2 linked regions of the Homo sapiens genome follow. The protein of the gene in region 1 interacts with the protein of each later gene in a pairwise test. Each region holds a gene or a part of one and is shown on either strand. Other genes may lie near its edges. The genes, in order: KDM3A and STAT1.

Region 1 (8,139 bases):
GGTTGAGTTGTGATGTGTACAAGTAAGGCAAAAATCCAACCTAGCCAAAATTGTTTTTGACATGAATTCCCAGTTGTCTTCAGGTTAGGCACCAAAGTGCAGTGGAGAAGACACTGGGCCCAATCTGGATTCGCAGCCTCCCTCCGCAGCTAATTATGCAAATCTGGACAAGATTCCTTTTCCTAAATCTATTTCCTCATTCTGAAAATGAAGATATCACCACCTCCTCAAAGGATGGGGGCGGAGGGAGGAGATTTAAAAAATATATACATGTGAAGTTCCTCCTAGATTGCCTGCCTAACCCAACAGGTCCTCAATTGCTGCTACAGAAGGGAAGGGAACGCCTAGTCTCTCAACATCTGCCAAAGAACTAAAGACTGGAAAGTTTAAATAAAATCTTGTTTCCATTCAAATCACATAAAAACAAATGCACTAGAGAAAATTTTATTTGGCAGGCGAAATAAACCACAACAAGCACGACTGAAATCTAGTACACAAAGCCCAGCTTACAGAAAGGTTATAAGCCCAAAGCAAAAAGGTTGGCCATTCTTGCACCACAATATATTATCTCTATAAACATCAAAACCTGATTTGGCAGGAGAATGAGCCGAATGCAGGAAAAAACCAAACCTCACAGCCTATGACAGGAGCTCTGCTGTGGCATAGCTCTTGATCACTGGCCTGATGGTTAAGAGGGCAGCTTCTGGAGTAAAACTTCCTGGGTTTGACAGAATACAGGCTATGTCAATTCCTACGTATGTGTCCTTGGCAAGATGCTTAACGTCCCTCAGGCACAGTAGTTTCATCCATAAAATGGGGGCAATATTAGTACCTACCCCCAAGAACTGCTGTAAGGATTAAACGAGATCATAGTTGTGAAGTGCTTGCCACATGGTTAAATGCTCTTCGGTCACTCCTCCTTTTCAACAAGAGACAAGGCACAACACTGAAGCTTTAAAACATGCCTAACAGCATACCCCTTTCCTACAACTCTTTGCAGATAAATACCAGTTTGGGCATACACTGTCACCCTGAAAGTGTTCAAATGAACAGTGTTTCAGAAATCAACATATAATCAACTGCCAATGCTAAAACTTGCTGCCTTTATTTGAACATAGTTTAAGAAAAAGCAAAGATGATGGCCAAGTGAAGATTCTGAAACACATCTACTAGGCAGGGTGGAAATATCTTCTGTTCTGACAAGCTTCCTTCAAGTTATCACCACTTTGGAGTCTTTGTTAGGAACCTTTTTTCAGTTATTTTCGCACAAAGGAGTCTTTGTTGGTACAATGGCTTCCTCACTGCTTGTTCCCAGACAATCCTTTCACATCAATACTTCTATTAGGGAGCACAATCAGAATTCATCTGTCTTTGAAAAGATCTAACAGAAAAAGGTTCTGAGTGTCATAATGATTTAAAAAAAAATCACTGGCCGCACTTGTTCCCAATTCTCTCCCTCCCCTCATGCGTCCAAGTGCAGTATTTCTAAGCCAGTCCTCCAATATGCCATATATGGGACAGCTCCACCCCATCCCTCCATATATGGTCATATCCCACACCCACCCACCGGCTCATCACAGACAACCAGGAACCCACTCCTGCCCTGACCCACCATATACGGACAAACACCCATCCTAATACGCCAAACAGAACTTAAGCTCCTCCCTCTACACTCACTTCATTTTTAACAAGTCTGAAAGTTTTTTTAAAAGTTGAGTGAATAAATTAACAGGAACAAACAAACAAAACCAGCTGAAAGTACTTCCAAGCACTAACCTTCAATTCTTAATGACTCCAAACGTCACTTACAGGCCCTACCTAACGCTAACAAAAATACTCCTCCTCCTCTGCAGTAAAGATGAGACAGTCCTGGTGGGACACAGCACCGGCATTAATGAAGCGTGTCTGAACAACCCTAAGCCCATTATTAAAGCCAGGCAGCCAGGAGCTGTGGGCCAAACACAACTCGGCTCTATACAACCATTCCAAAGACTTTCAAGATCTAGCTTCCTGCACCTTCAGATCATATGCCAACTTTCTGGTCTCCGTTTTCAGAAAACGGAAGGAGGGAACCGATGGTCGCGTTACCACGGTAACTGCGAAACGTCCGGTGGCAGAGGCCCGGAGCCGCCTGTACCTTCAGATCCTTCTTGGTAACGTCGGTGTGGGAAACAGCTCGAATGGTCCCGGAGAGCCAGGGCCACTCGGCGACGCGCTCCACGTCCCAGCTGTCGTGGCTGCCATCGCTGCCGTCGGCTGCGGACAGACTGAGAAACCTCCTCCCCACCAATACCGGCCAACTTTCTCCGAGCGTGAGCACCATGGTTTCCACGCCTGCAGGAAGAGCTCCTCCCTGCAAAAACACAAAAACAAAATGCGACGGGGGCGGCCGGTGGGAGGGGGCCGGGCGGAGACAGCAGGGAGGGCGGGCGGAGGGCGCCGAACCCGCGCGAGGACGCGGCCCCGGGCGGACCCGCACCGAGCCCCCCTCCTGCGCCCTCCCGCCCCCCGCCGCCCTCCCCCGCCACACACCCGGGCCCCAGCGCCGCGTGACCCTCGCTCTCCCAAGTTTGGCTTTTCTAACAGCTCAAACGCAACCGCAGAGGGAGTGAGGGAAAAATTATCTGCGGCTCGAGTGGATTTGAAAGTGCTCAGCCCCCAGCCCCGAAAAGAAAAGGCCCCTGGTGCAGAGAGCCGGTCCCGGGCGGCTGGGTCCCCGCCCCGGGCGGCCCCACGGGGGAGGGTGGGCGAGCCCGCGATTCCGCACTTGCCCCGCCGCCCCGCCCCGGCGCCCAGCTCCCCGGCCCCGAACCCCGGGCGCCCGTCTCCCGGGCCTGCGCCGCTGCCAACGGGCGACGGGGCCGCGCGCTCGGCGCTTTCACCTTTCTCTCCCCTCTCCCCGCAGCCGAGGCCGCGGCGCTCTTACCCCGCCTCCCGCCTCCCTGAGTCACCGGCGGCAGCCGCCGTTTCCAGCCGCCTAGCCGACTCCAGCGCTGACTTGGTTCAAGAGCTCTCACAAGACACGCACAGCCTCCCGGACCCGCCCCCCTCGGAGCCGCTTCCGCCGCTCATTGGCTGAAACACAGGAGCTGGGCGAGGCTCCGGGGGAAACAGATCATCACCATTGGCCCCCCGGGCGAGGGCGGGGCCAGAGAAAAAAACAATTCCTTGGCTGCCTCCTCCCTTTCCCCTCCCCCTTCCGACTCCCGGGCGACCCCCATTAGGTTAAAGTACACAGAGAATAAGCGAGTGATCCCTCCGCCATAGGCCTATTCTTTCCATTTGTTGCCTCACAGTATGCAAAAAAAAAGTCCCGCGAAATCGGTTATCAACTTTGGGGCCCGGAGGAAAATTGCTGTGGCGCATAGATAAGACTGAATGGCGAGACCCTGAGCTATAAGTGCCTACTGGATTGTTCTTCAACCGCGTAGGCTGTCGACCGAAGATGAGCCTTCCACTTGGCGGAAGAATCTCACAGGAAAGGGTGAGGGCGGTGCAGGGTTAGCGGGGGAGGGCAGGGAAGAGAACGTGCGGTTTCAGGCGTACTCAGCTAGAGGGAGGAGCGATAGTGCTCTGGAGGCTCGTGCGCAGGCGCCTCGCCGAGCTTAGGCTGCTGGGCGAAATGGCTGCGGGAGGCGCAGGCGCACGTGGTACTGATCGTGGAACGTCTAAAGTCCGCCATTTTGAAGGATAAATGAAGAAAGGCGTGGAGTTACTGGATAATGACGTTCATTAAATTTAGAGCAAAAGAGACCTTTAAATACAATGTATAATGAGATTTTTTTTTCTCCAAAGTGGGATTGAGAAGGTATTCAGATACTTACAAAGAAATTTAAAGTAGTTGAAGGCCATAATGAATGATGGAAGAGATGAAAGAGAAGGTGACTTTGAAGGACAAAGGAGTTTAGAGGTGATTGTGTGCTCTGGACCTGAAGTATTTTGATTGAATGAAAAAGAAATGGAATGAAGAAATTGAAGATATGTTCATAAAGGCTAGTGTTTGACATTACATCACATTTAATCCTTAAGAAGAACTCATGCCTCCCATTTTACAAGCGTGGAAACGTATAATCAGAGAATGTTTGGAAACATATAAGGGATTATAGATGCAAATCAACTCTGGATGTTGATTTTCAATATACATATTCTGAATGTGATTTTAAGTTTTTAAAGTTAGTAACAAGAATTAAATTGGATTTATAATCTGTAGACCATTTAAAGGAAGGGGGCTGCTAAATGAGAAGAAAAAACCTATCCAGCTGAAAGAAGGCAGAAATGGGAACGAGATAAGCAAAAGAAACCAGAACATATGGTAAAAATGTTTTTCATGTGAAAAGTCCAAACATCAGTATTTACAATAAATGTAAATGGGTTAATTTCACTCACAAGTTTTAAAAGACAGTTGGGAATAAAAGGACAATCCAGCTATAAATTGACCATAAGCAAATGCTTACAAAACAGGAAGCTTGAAAATACTGGGCTAAAATATTTAATCAAATGGTAGCCAAATGAAAGCAGTATAGCAATATTAATACAATTAAAAGTATCAAAAGAGAAAGGATTTTATATTAAAGATAAAGTCCATGAAGACAGTATGGTCTCCTGAACTGTTATGAATCTAAAAACATGGCCTATCCTAAGGTGACGCTATGAACGATGAGAAATTTTACAAATTTGACAATTTGTTTTCAGAGTAGAAGACATAAATATCTCAGAAATATGCAACTCAAATGTAAAATATAAGGGAAGATATGGAGAACTTAGATTATGTAATTAAATATTAATTTGAAAAACAACTCAAGGGAAAAATTCTATTGAACCTGAAGGAACATATACTTTCTATGTTGAATTCATTATTTCAGAGCTTAGAAAAGATGGAAAGATATCCAATGCATTTTATAAAAGTTATAAAACCGTTTCACAAATTCTGAACTGGGCGAGTATAAGAAAGAAAAACTATGGTTCAATTATACTTAGGAACATAGATGGGAAATTCTTTTATAAAATACCAGCAAATTAAATCCAGCAGCATTTTTTTTAGGTAATTGATATGATTAATTAGTGTTATATGAATGCAAAGATACTTCAAGATTAGAAAATTACTAAAATTCACCATGACAGGTTAAAAAAGAAAAATCGTATATTCACCTTAGGGCTAAATAGAGCATGCAGTCACATTGAACACTTGTGATCTTAAGAGTATTTTTAAATTACATAGAAAACTAAGAAGATTATAAGTGTACACTTATATTCAATACCACCCATAATTTTTAAAAAATGTTTTTAAACTTTCTAAAAACCTAGGAATATAAGTTACGTACCACAGAAAAACACCCACACACATATGAACGAAAAAACATCTGCAAATAACCTAAGTGTACTCCAGTTGGAGAAGGAATAAATAAAATTATTAACAATAAATGGAATGTAATGCATATATTGGAAAGTTGTAGAGGATTTGTAAAGGAGTCAAAGCAGCTAGATGTTCCAATAAAAATAGTTACCAAAATACATTATGAATGAAAAAGAAATTTGCATTTGGTACTATTTCAAAATACACATACAAAAACAACAGTATATATGTTCTGTTAAATATGGTTATTAAAACTTACAGTAATGGTTACTGGTATTAGGGGGTGCACACTAGAATTAGGGGTATTAGTCAAAGACAACACATATTATTTGTAATTCTAATTTTTTATAAATACACTTTTTTTGTATTTACATTTTTATCACCTTATTTTTAATTGACAGGTAAAACTATATGGTGTACAATATGATGTTTTGGTATAGATATACATTGTGGAATGGCTATATCAAATTATTTTACATATGCATTCCCTCACATACTCATCTTTTTTTGTGTGGTGAGAACACTTAAAATCCACTCTTAGCAATTTTCAAATATACAATATATTGTCATTAACTGTAGTCACCATGATGTACATTAGATCATTTGAACTTATTCCTCCTGTCTAACTGAAATTTTGTGTCCTTTGACCAACATCTACCCAATCTCCCCACTCCCTGTAATTCTCTCATTTTATAAGGTAAATGTACTCACATGTTACTTTTAAAATTTAATTTTTAACTCTCATTAATGGAATCTGCTACATTAACAAATTAAAGGAGAAAATACATATGATTATCTCAATAGATACACCAAAAATTTTATATACTTCATTTTCATTCATTATAAAAACTCTTAGCAAACTATCAAGAAAAGAAAATTTTATAACTCTATAAAGGATATCTACCAGAAATATACTTAAACATTGTACTTAATTGTGAAATTTTAGAAAAATTCCCAATAAAGTCAGGAGCAAGATAAGGATGCCCAATGCTGTCATTACTATTCAAGTTACAATAGAGGTTAATTGCTAATGTAATAAGACAAGAAAAATAATACAATGTAAACATTGGAATGGAAGAAAAAGCCCAAAACATTTGTAGATAAATCAAAAGCATCAGTGACAAATTATTAGAATTAAAACAAGAATCAAAAAGATAATGCAATAAAAGATCAACAAACGAAAATCAAAAGAATTCCTATTCCTTAGCAAGCATCAATTAGAACATACAGTAGAAAAATAAAAACCATTAATGATAATAAAACATGTAATCCCTAAAAATTAATACATGAAATGAACACAACCTATATGAAGAAAATTAGACTTTGCTGACATGTATAAAGAAGATGAAAAATTCTGTCTCTTGATATGATCTGATAAATATGTCATTTCTCCTCTAACAAAACAACAAATAAAAACATCAAGACATAAATATATAAGTAATGAAGAGAACAAAGAAACAGACCCAGTGTATATTAAAAATTAGTTTGTGATCGACATATTTCTAGTGGGTGTAAAGAATAAACTATGCAATACATGCTTTGAGGTCTATTGATTATCCATTAAAAATGTATATATAAGCCGGGCGCAGTGACTTATGCCTGTAATCCCAGCATTTTGGGAAGCTGAGGTGGCAGATCACTTCAGGTCAGGAGTTTGAGACCAGCCTGGCCAACATGGTGAGACCTCATCGCTACTGTAAAAATTAGCTGGCTGTTGTGGTGCACATCCACAATCCCAGCTACTCGGGAGGCTGAGACAGAAGAATCACTTGAACCTTAAACCCAGGAAGCAGAGGTTGCAGTGAGCTGAGATCACGCCACTGCACTCCAGCCTGGATGACGAAGCAAGACTCTGTCTCAAAAAAAAAAAGTATATAATGTATATATAACCAAGATTCCTACACCAACATTCACGAAAATAAGTTCCAGGTAGATCAAAATGCTACATATTTTAAAATCCAATAAAATATTTTAAAATTCCCTCCTCTCTTCTACTTTTTTCTCTTTCCTTTCCTCTTTCTAAACATTTCAGTCTTGAGGCCATTAGGAGGGGCAGAGCAAGATAGGTGTTAATAAGGAGAGGCTGTCAGCCATGGGATGTTAGAGCTCTAAAGAGTAAGGAGTAATAGCCGGGCATAGACAGTCAGAGCCCAAGTGGGGTGAGAAGGGTAGACACACAAAAGGTTAACCTAGCCTGGGTTATCTAGAGTCCAAGTGAGGTGAGGAGGGCATCCATGAATGGGGGCAGCCTAGTGTGGTATGTTGGAGCCCAAACAGAGTGAAGAGACTGTTTACATGAGAAGAAAGCCTGGCATGAGTAACAGAGCCTGAGGAGGGGGAGGAGAGTGTGTAGGAGAGTGATTTGACATGGATGTCAGACCCCAAGGAGGGTGAGGAGGGCATTCATGTAGGGACCAGCAGTGGGCACTGAAAAGACCAAGAGATCTCTTAGAAGCAGCAGGAGAACCAGGTGAGAGGTACATTCTGGAAGCAAGCCAAAAAGAGTTTCAACTTGGAAGACCATGCAGTAAGGTCAAAGGATACACTGAGGTGAAGACAGATGGAGGACTGAGCAGCAGGATATTGAAACTGCCAACAAATATATTTTAGCCACTGGGTATTGCCAGAAATAACTTCCACTGGTTAGTAAAAATTATCCAAGCTTCAGGGTATATATTCCAGTCAAATCCTGACACTAACTTGCTGTGTCAACCCTAGCTCCAGAGGACATCAGAAGTTCCCAAATGCCTTAAGAAAGTTGGCAACAGAAAATTTGGAATATGCTT
Region 2 (7,273 bases), about 100 Mb from region 1:
CATCAACTTTTCGGGGGGATTAAAGTTCTACTGTGTTTCTAGACAGCTTAGCCTCCTAAAACTTTAAGGAGCTATAACCTCCCTGCCTGAGTCACCTAAAATTCTAGTGGGAATGCAGAAACAACGAGAAGAAGGATCTGAATTCAGTCTGGAAATAAGCTAGTGTTCAGCAGGACACTAGCTAGGAGCTTTCTCTTTACACAACTTGAAATCTTACAAGAAGTCTGAGCCCAAAATATGCAAAGTTCTATCCAGTTTATTGGCATTAGCCTGGCTAATGAATATTCACAGCTGTCAAGGTAAGCTGGGGACATCTTCATTCCAAAGTAATTGTCCTAATATTGAGATTTCTGATTCTGAAAAACAGCTTTGTTGGTGTGTTCCAAACAAAACAGGTCTAATTCGAACCTTCTCAAATGCAATTCATTGACAACTGAGAAGCAAGAGACCTGTGTTCTCAGATGAGGCCTCCTCTTAATAATTATCTAATAAAAATAGGATCTAGTAAGTAATTGGGCCACCCTAAATGAACCACTTCACTTCTCCCAGGCCTCAGTTTCCTCAACTTTAACGTGAGCAAGATGCCTTCTGTTGGTTTACCACAGTTCCTTATTTAAACCCTTTTCATGTGGAAACAGTGATAGTAACAAATACACAAGACCAGCAATGGACTTTTCCAACATTCCTAAAATAGGAAATTGTCCATTCATTTCTTACTAGCTGTATCAGGCCAAATAATGCATTATGTTTCACCTGCACTGAGTTTATGCCATCTTTTGAAAGCCTACTCTTACCAATTCGAAAGCAAAACACTGCATGGGTGGAGTTTCAGAATAATCACCCCCTCATCAGGAAAGACTGTGCCACGCTGTTACCACCTGCTTGCCCCACTTACCTTCCTTTGGCCTGGAGTAATACTTTCCAAAGGCATGGTCTTTGTCAATATTTGGATACAGATACTTCAGGGGATTCTCAGGAATATTCTCAGCAGCCATGACTTTGTAATTGCGAATGATGTCAGGGAAAGTAACAGCAGAAAGTTCTTTCTTCGTGTAGGGTTCAACCGCATGGAAGTCAGGTTCTAAAAAGGAGAAAAGCTAAGTAAATCCCATAGAACATCCCAAAATGAAAGAGGACAGAGAAATAAAACACTGCAGAGTTGATGGATTTGAGTGAACCTCATAAGAACTAATCACAATCTAAGCATTATAACATATACAGTAGACTGCTTTATTTCTAAATAAATTATAATACTGTCTCAGGGAAAATAAAGGGAGGTATTATTCTCAATAACATTCTATTTGCCATTATTTGCTTAGATTTATAAATCTGGGCAAAAAAGATTTATTAAAAACCTTTAAAAGCCTGCATCTTCAATGATGTGCTGCCCATAGGCACATAAATAACTTACTACTAAGTGGATCATCTTGGCTTAAGCCACAGATTTAAATTACTAGAGATAAACTCACTTTGTTTTTCTTTTCATATTGAAAAATCTAATTTTTTATTAAAATAAATTATGATATATAGAAAACAACATTTCAAATTAAAAATGATCCTATTTGCTACATTTCCCTGTAACCCTTAACGTAATAAACCATGGTTTAATTTACTCCCGTTCTTATTCCCAGACTGAATTCAGATCCTTCTTCCTAGCTGATACAGAATCTCCCTTTGGGTGTCGACCTTCCAGAGGCCACGGTTCAGGTGTTCTGGGGAGCCTGCTGTGGAACATGAGACTATGCTGCCATCCTAACCCTTCCTGGCTGGTAGTGTCCTGCTTGACCTTTCCTGGTTGCCAAGGGTTTTCTTCATCTCTGCTTGGTCTACTATATCTGTCTCTCAGCTGGTTCAGGAAGGGAACAGGATAAGAGGAAAAGGGCAGGTTCTAATGACTACTGCCCACGCCAGACTCTCATCTCAGCCTCCCTGCTTTTTCCTCAGAAGAAAAATAGAACAAGAAAAGTATTCCAGAAAAACAAATAGAACAAGAAGAGTATTCCTGAAAAATAAACAGAACAAGAAAGAATACCGTTCCAGAAAAAAAAAATAGAAGAGTATTCCAGAAAAACAAACAGAACAAGAAGAGTATGGCAGAAAAACAAATAGAATAAGAGTATTCCAGAAAAACAGGAGAAGAGGAATATTTCAGAAAAATAAATAGAACAAGAAGAGTATTCCATTTTGTGTCTACCCACTGAAAGTATAAAAATTACTAAAACAAATCAGTTTTTCCTCCTGCCCTTCAAACAGACCAAACTCTAAACAACAGTGAAAAGTAATCAGTTGGTCTTTATGATTTTTTCATTTACGCTGTTGAGCTTCACCCTCAGAAACCTGCTTCATAACACCAAGGTTTCTGGAGTCTTTTAGCCATGGACTCATTTGATTAAATAGAAACCCCATATATGATAAAGATAAATTTGCAGCTGCTCTGTTTGAAGGCAGGGTAGAGGCTGCCACTCGTCCCAACAGGTCCTGCATCAACTCCCTGGCTGATGATGTGTATGAAGTCTTCTCCCGAAGCCTGTCTCATCTGCACACTCTACTCTGGGATGACCCTAAGAGAATGTGGATGCTTACTCCTGTGGGAAATGTGATTCCTTCCAAGAACGGGTTGCAGATTACATTGACTCACATCCTTGATCTGCAGATAACAAACCTGATGCAAAGGAAAGAATTGGCATTGTCTTTTCAAAACCATCATTTCCACAATATGTTCCAGAGAGTGAACCACAACCACAAACATTTGTGGTGGTTTATTAAATCCTATCGGGGGCTCATTTGGGGTAAGTATAAGATCTGCAATTTCATGTCCCAAACGCACTATCTGTATGAGCTGACTGGCGGCGATGAAGAGGGACTTCACACACATGGAATGGTGGGACTATGTGCTCAAACTCCCACTCACCGCCTCCGTTCTGGGACCGCTCCACCCATGTGAATGTGATGGCCCCTTCCCGGGAGCTCTCACTGAACCGCAGCAGGAAGGTCCCCGGCTGCTGGTCCTTCAACAGGGCACGCTCTCGCTCCTTGCTGATGAAGCCCATGATGCACCTGGATATCGAAGAGATGGACGGATGGGCTTTTAGTTCAATCATGATTTCCATTTTCATGCTAACTTACAAACCAAGAAAATGGCTGGAATGTGAGAAAAAAAACCTACGGTAAAAAACGTAGACTATTTTAAAATCTGTTCAGTTGACACTTAAGGAAGCATTTCACTTATACATGTATATACTAAGGTTTTAAAAAAAGCGATATGAACATGGTGTCAGTAGGATGCTACAGATGCTCAATAACACGTGTGGGATTAATGAGCCTTTTATTGTTCCTTTATTATTTTAAAGGCCATAACAATGTCTGAATGTATACATCTTTTTTACTGGAGAGGAAGACCTAGGCAATATATTTTCATATTTTAGCCCTTCTGATCAAGTTAAAGCTTCTGTTGAAATATCAGCCGATCCTGGCAATAAGTCAAGATAGAAATGATTTACCCAGTTAAAAGGGTTTTTCTTCCTTCCTAGGGGCCACATAGTAGGTGCTCAAAAAATTTTTGTTGAGTGAATGAATGCATGAATGGCACTCAAGAGTTGTTTTTTTTTTTTAATTTAGCTTTGCCAATACATATACTTGTACTAAGAAAGTGTAAGGTTAATGTTATGAGGTTCTACTCTTCTGAAGCCCTGAAGGGGCAGCCTATAAATGCGCACTCCTGTGAGATTCACACACGCCTAGTCAAATACTGAAGCTGGACTCAGGCCTTGTCTCAACCTCGCAGCACTAAAAATATGTTTCAAAATACATCTATCGGTGGCCCTTACCCATCATTCCAGAGAGGGAGCAGGTGTTTTTTAATGAGTTCTAGGATGCTTTCAATCCAAAGCCAGAAGGGAAAATTTTTATCATTTATATTTTCCTGAAAGTATACAAATGCAGACATTATGAACAAAAATCTAAAACAATGACTTACCATGGCCCCTCCCACCATCATTTGCAAAGACTCCCCAGGTGCCAAGGATGGAACTGTCCCATTCAGCACAGCAATGGGATCCCTCCCCTGGCAGGGAATATCAAGTTCCCTCCCCGCTCTTATCAGCATTCAGACCAGGAGCTCTCCAGAGCTCTCCACTTCCCTGGGCCGGGCTCTGCTTCCCTTTCCAAACAGTAGCAAGCTAGCCTGGGGGTGACCTCCAGCGTGACTCACGGAAACACAAGCTGCCCCACACTAGCAAAATCCAGCAGTGCAAGCTGGTCCGCACTGTCTGGTGACTCCAGCAGAATCTAAATGTTCCCCGCAGTGGGCCCCTCTGCTCGAGCAGGCCGTTAAACTCGTCTGGCTGGTCAGGCTGCGCCACCCAGCCCACAACATACATTTCACACAGAAATGGCTAAAACACTGCTGGGCAGGGGTCCAGCGTGAGTGAACAGAAGCCTCATTTCAGATATGAAAGAATGTTATCACTCAGGCAGGTGCTTCCTGTCAGACTCCTGCTCGGAGACCAACCTCCTGCACTGAAGAAAAGTAAACAACTTGCCCGAGGGGCTCCTTGGCCAGAGAAGAACACGCCAAAATAAGCAAACAGTTAAGTAACTATCACAGCAAGAAACATGAGAACCTCAACCAAGAGCAAAAAGGACTTAGAGAGCATAAAACCCAGACAGTCCTCACCTTACAAAACCTCGTCCACGGAATGAGACCATCGGGGCTGGCGTTAGGACCTAAACAAATAAAAACCAGATTTTTCAGCAAACAGAAACTGATTCTAAAGCTTTGGTTGGACGGATGGCTCTTGTATTTGCTCTCAAGGAAAAGAGCCAAACACCCAACAAAGATTGTATGTACACAGTTGACATTTTCGGATACCTTAATGCCAAATTAACTGAGCAATTATAATACGTGCTGTAAGAGGGCGGAATTTAAATGGTCTAAAATATGTATATGTTGGTTTGAGTTTAATGGCAGAAAGGAATGGATGGCAGATTCCTGGGCACCACGATATGAGAGTTTTTAGGGAAAGCGGAAACATCACAAAGCCTTACCATCTGCTCTCTCCCTCCCCAGCCCCCCTTTTCCCTCCCTCCTCTAAAGAGAGGACAGTCCTTTTAATGCCTCTTCATGTTACACTTCCTTCCAAGACCATCAGCTGACTTTGCCTTTTGCACTAAATCAAAGGTGTTCTGCTGGGCCTCCTAGAGAAGCCTCCCTATCCAGTGCCTCTTCCCACTGCCTTCCTCTGCTGCTCAGCAGAGCCCCCTCTCCCAAGGATCCTACAGAATTTTTTTCAAAGTTCAACCTAGGTGCCCAAGATCACCCCTAGATCTTCAATGTAACTGATACTTGACTTTACAAGTTTATTTTAGACATTATTTATGCATTTCCCTCAGCTTTCCTCCAAATAGGACATGGGCTCAGGCAGTCTGATGCAAATCAAAAACCAAGTGAGAGAAACGAGAGGAAGAAGCCCGGGGTTATTAGCTACACAAATTAAAGCAGCCTGGGCGAGAAGAGGCGGTAAGCCCATTATCGGTCTTCAAAGAGAACTACAAATGAGCCATTACAGCTAGAAAAGATATCCTTCTTAACTCTCACCAAATAAAGAAATGGAATAAGGGGATTTTGTACTTGTATTAAACAGCACAAGACCACCACTGTGACAGCTGCATATCCAAGAGAAGAAGGCACTGTTGAAAGTCACTGAGTTAGGAAGAGCCTACTGCTGTTTGGAGTAAATGCAGTGCTGCTCTACAGAAAGCAAATCTGGATACAAGTTGTCCACGGATTTTTAAAGAAATAGTTCAGATAGCCTCACTCACTGAAAGATCTGACCTTGAGACTAGTGGATCTTTGATTTGTTTAGTATGAAGGACTAATAAATGCACTGACATTAACCACTGAAAGGGAATTATCTACCACTGTCTAGACTCTGTCCAATCAGGCAAAACTGCAGATCAAAAGAGGCATCCTCTTGTGGGGACGGCATCCTCTGCTACCTGGGCCCCACCTGAGGCAAGGGCCCTGGGTTTATGCTGCAGTGGGCAAGCCCCAGGACTTTATTTCTCATCATGTCAGGGACTTCCTTTTTTCTCCCCAAGGTTAATGGTTAATAGGCCTTCATCTTTCTCATCCAGGAACTTATTTCAGCCACAAATAATATATTTTACATAATTCATAAAACTTTCCCTTGGGAATTCATCTCAGAAATCTTAATATGAGACAATGAGGAACGGATTCATTTAAATGTTATCAGGTCTATATTTCTTTCTAAGGTGACATATGATTCTCACTTAGCTATAATAAACTATAGCTTGAAAAGCTGACAGATTTTAGTACTTTTTTACCTTTAACAAAATAGCAGAGGGGAAAAGAGCAATTAGAGAGATATTTTTATGAATTTCAATTTTTATAAACATAACAAGTTAATATGCATATACCAAGAAGCTTCTCTCCCAACATGTTCAGCTGGTCCACATTGAGACCTCTTTTGGTGACAGAAGAAAACTGCCAACTCAGCACTTCTGAAAGCTGAGCCCATCGTGCACATGGTGGAGTCAGGAAGAAGGACAGATTCTAGAGAGAAAACACCCAAAATCTAAGGGTTACTACAGAGACACCAGTCACAAGTGTGGCACTAAAACATATGTCCATCCCAAAGTTCAATTCTAGTTTATATGACACACAGGTGCTTTCACAGTAGGGGAAGAGAAATACAGTCAATTTTCATTATTTACAGATGCACATTTGTGAACTTGTTTACTCACTAAAATTTACTTGTAACTCCAAAATCTAAATACATGGCATCTTTGGGGTCATTTGAAGACACACCCGTGCACACACAGCAGCACACAGCAGCAAAGAATTCGAGTCTCTTAACACGCTTCCAACTGAAGCCAAACAAAATGACACTCGCTTCCTGTTTCACCTCTCATAAGAAAAACGTGTCCTTTTTGAAGCCTATTTAGCGCCATGTTTTTTGCATTTTGTGACTGCTGTTGGTGATCCCTGTTTAAAATGGTGCCCGAGCATAGTACCACAGTGTGGTCTACTGTTCCTAAGCATGGGAAGGCTGGGATGTGCCTTATGGAGAAAATACATGTGTGAGGCAAGCTTCACTCAGGCATGAGTTACAGTGATCCTAGCTATAGGTGTAATGTTAATGCCTCAACAAGTGTATTAGATAAGGTGTCTTTAAACAGAAACACACATAAACAATGTTATGCATTGATGGGTTGACAAAAATGTTGTGACCAGAGGCTTGAAGGAACCTAG

What was found.
Region 2: the proteins of KDM3A (region 1) and STAT1 interact in binary tests that used the Homo sapiens proteins (3 or more experiments, as listed by UniProt).

The regions. Positions count from the first base shown.
Region 1 is NC_000002.12:86,436,232-86,444,370, reverse strand, and holds the start of KDM3A (lysine-specific demethylase 3A), read right to left. Parts: upstream 3,001-8,139; 5' UTR 2,927-3,000; intron 2,911-2,926; exon of another isoform or gene 2,813-2,910; intron 2,702-2,812; exon of another isoform or gene 2,533-2,701; intron 2,354-2,532; 5' UTR 2,324-2,353; coding exon 2,138-2,323; intron 1-2,137. UniProt on the Homo sapiens protein: Histone demethylase that specifically demethylates 'Lys-9' of histone H3, thereby playing a central role in histone code.
Region 2 is NC_000002.12:190,975,945-190,983,217, forward strand, and holds part of STAT1 (signal transducer and activator of transcription 1-alpha/beta), read right to left. Parts: intron 6,575-7,273; coding exon 6,439-6,574; intron 4,726-6,438; coding exon 4,676-4,725; intron 3,923-4,675; coding exon 3,828-3,922; intron 3,058-3,827; coding exon 2,912-3,057; intron 1,082-2,911; coding exon 896-1,081; intron 1-895. UniProt on the Homo sapiens protein: Signal transducer and transcription activator that mediates cellular responses to interferons (IFNs), cytokine KITLG/SCF and other cytokines and other growth factors.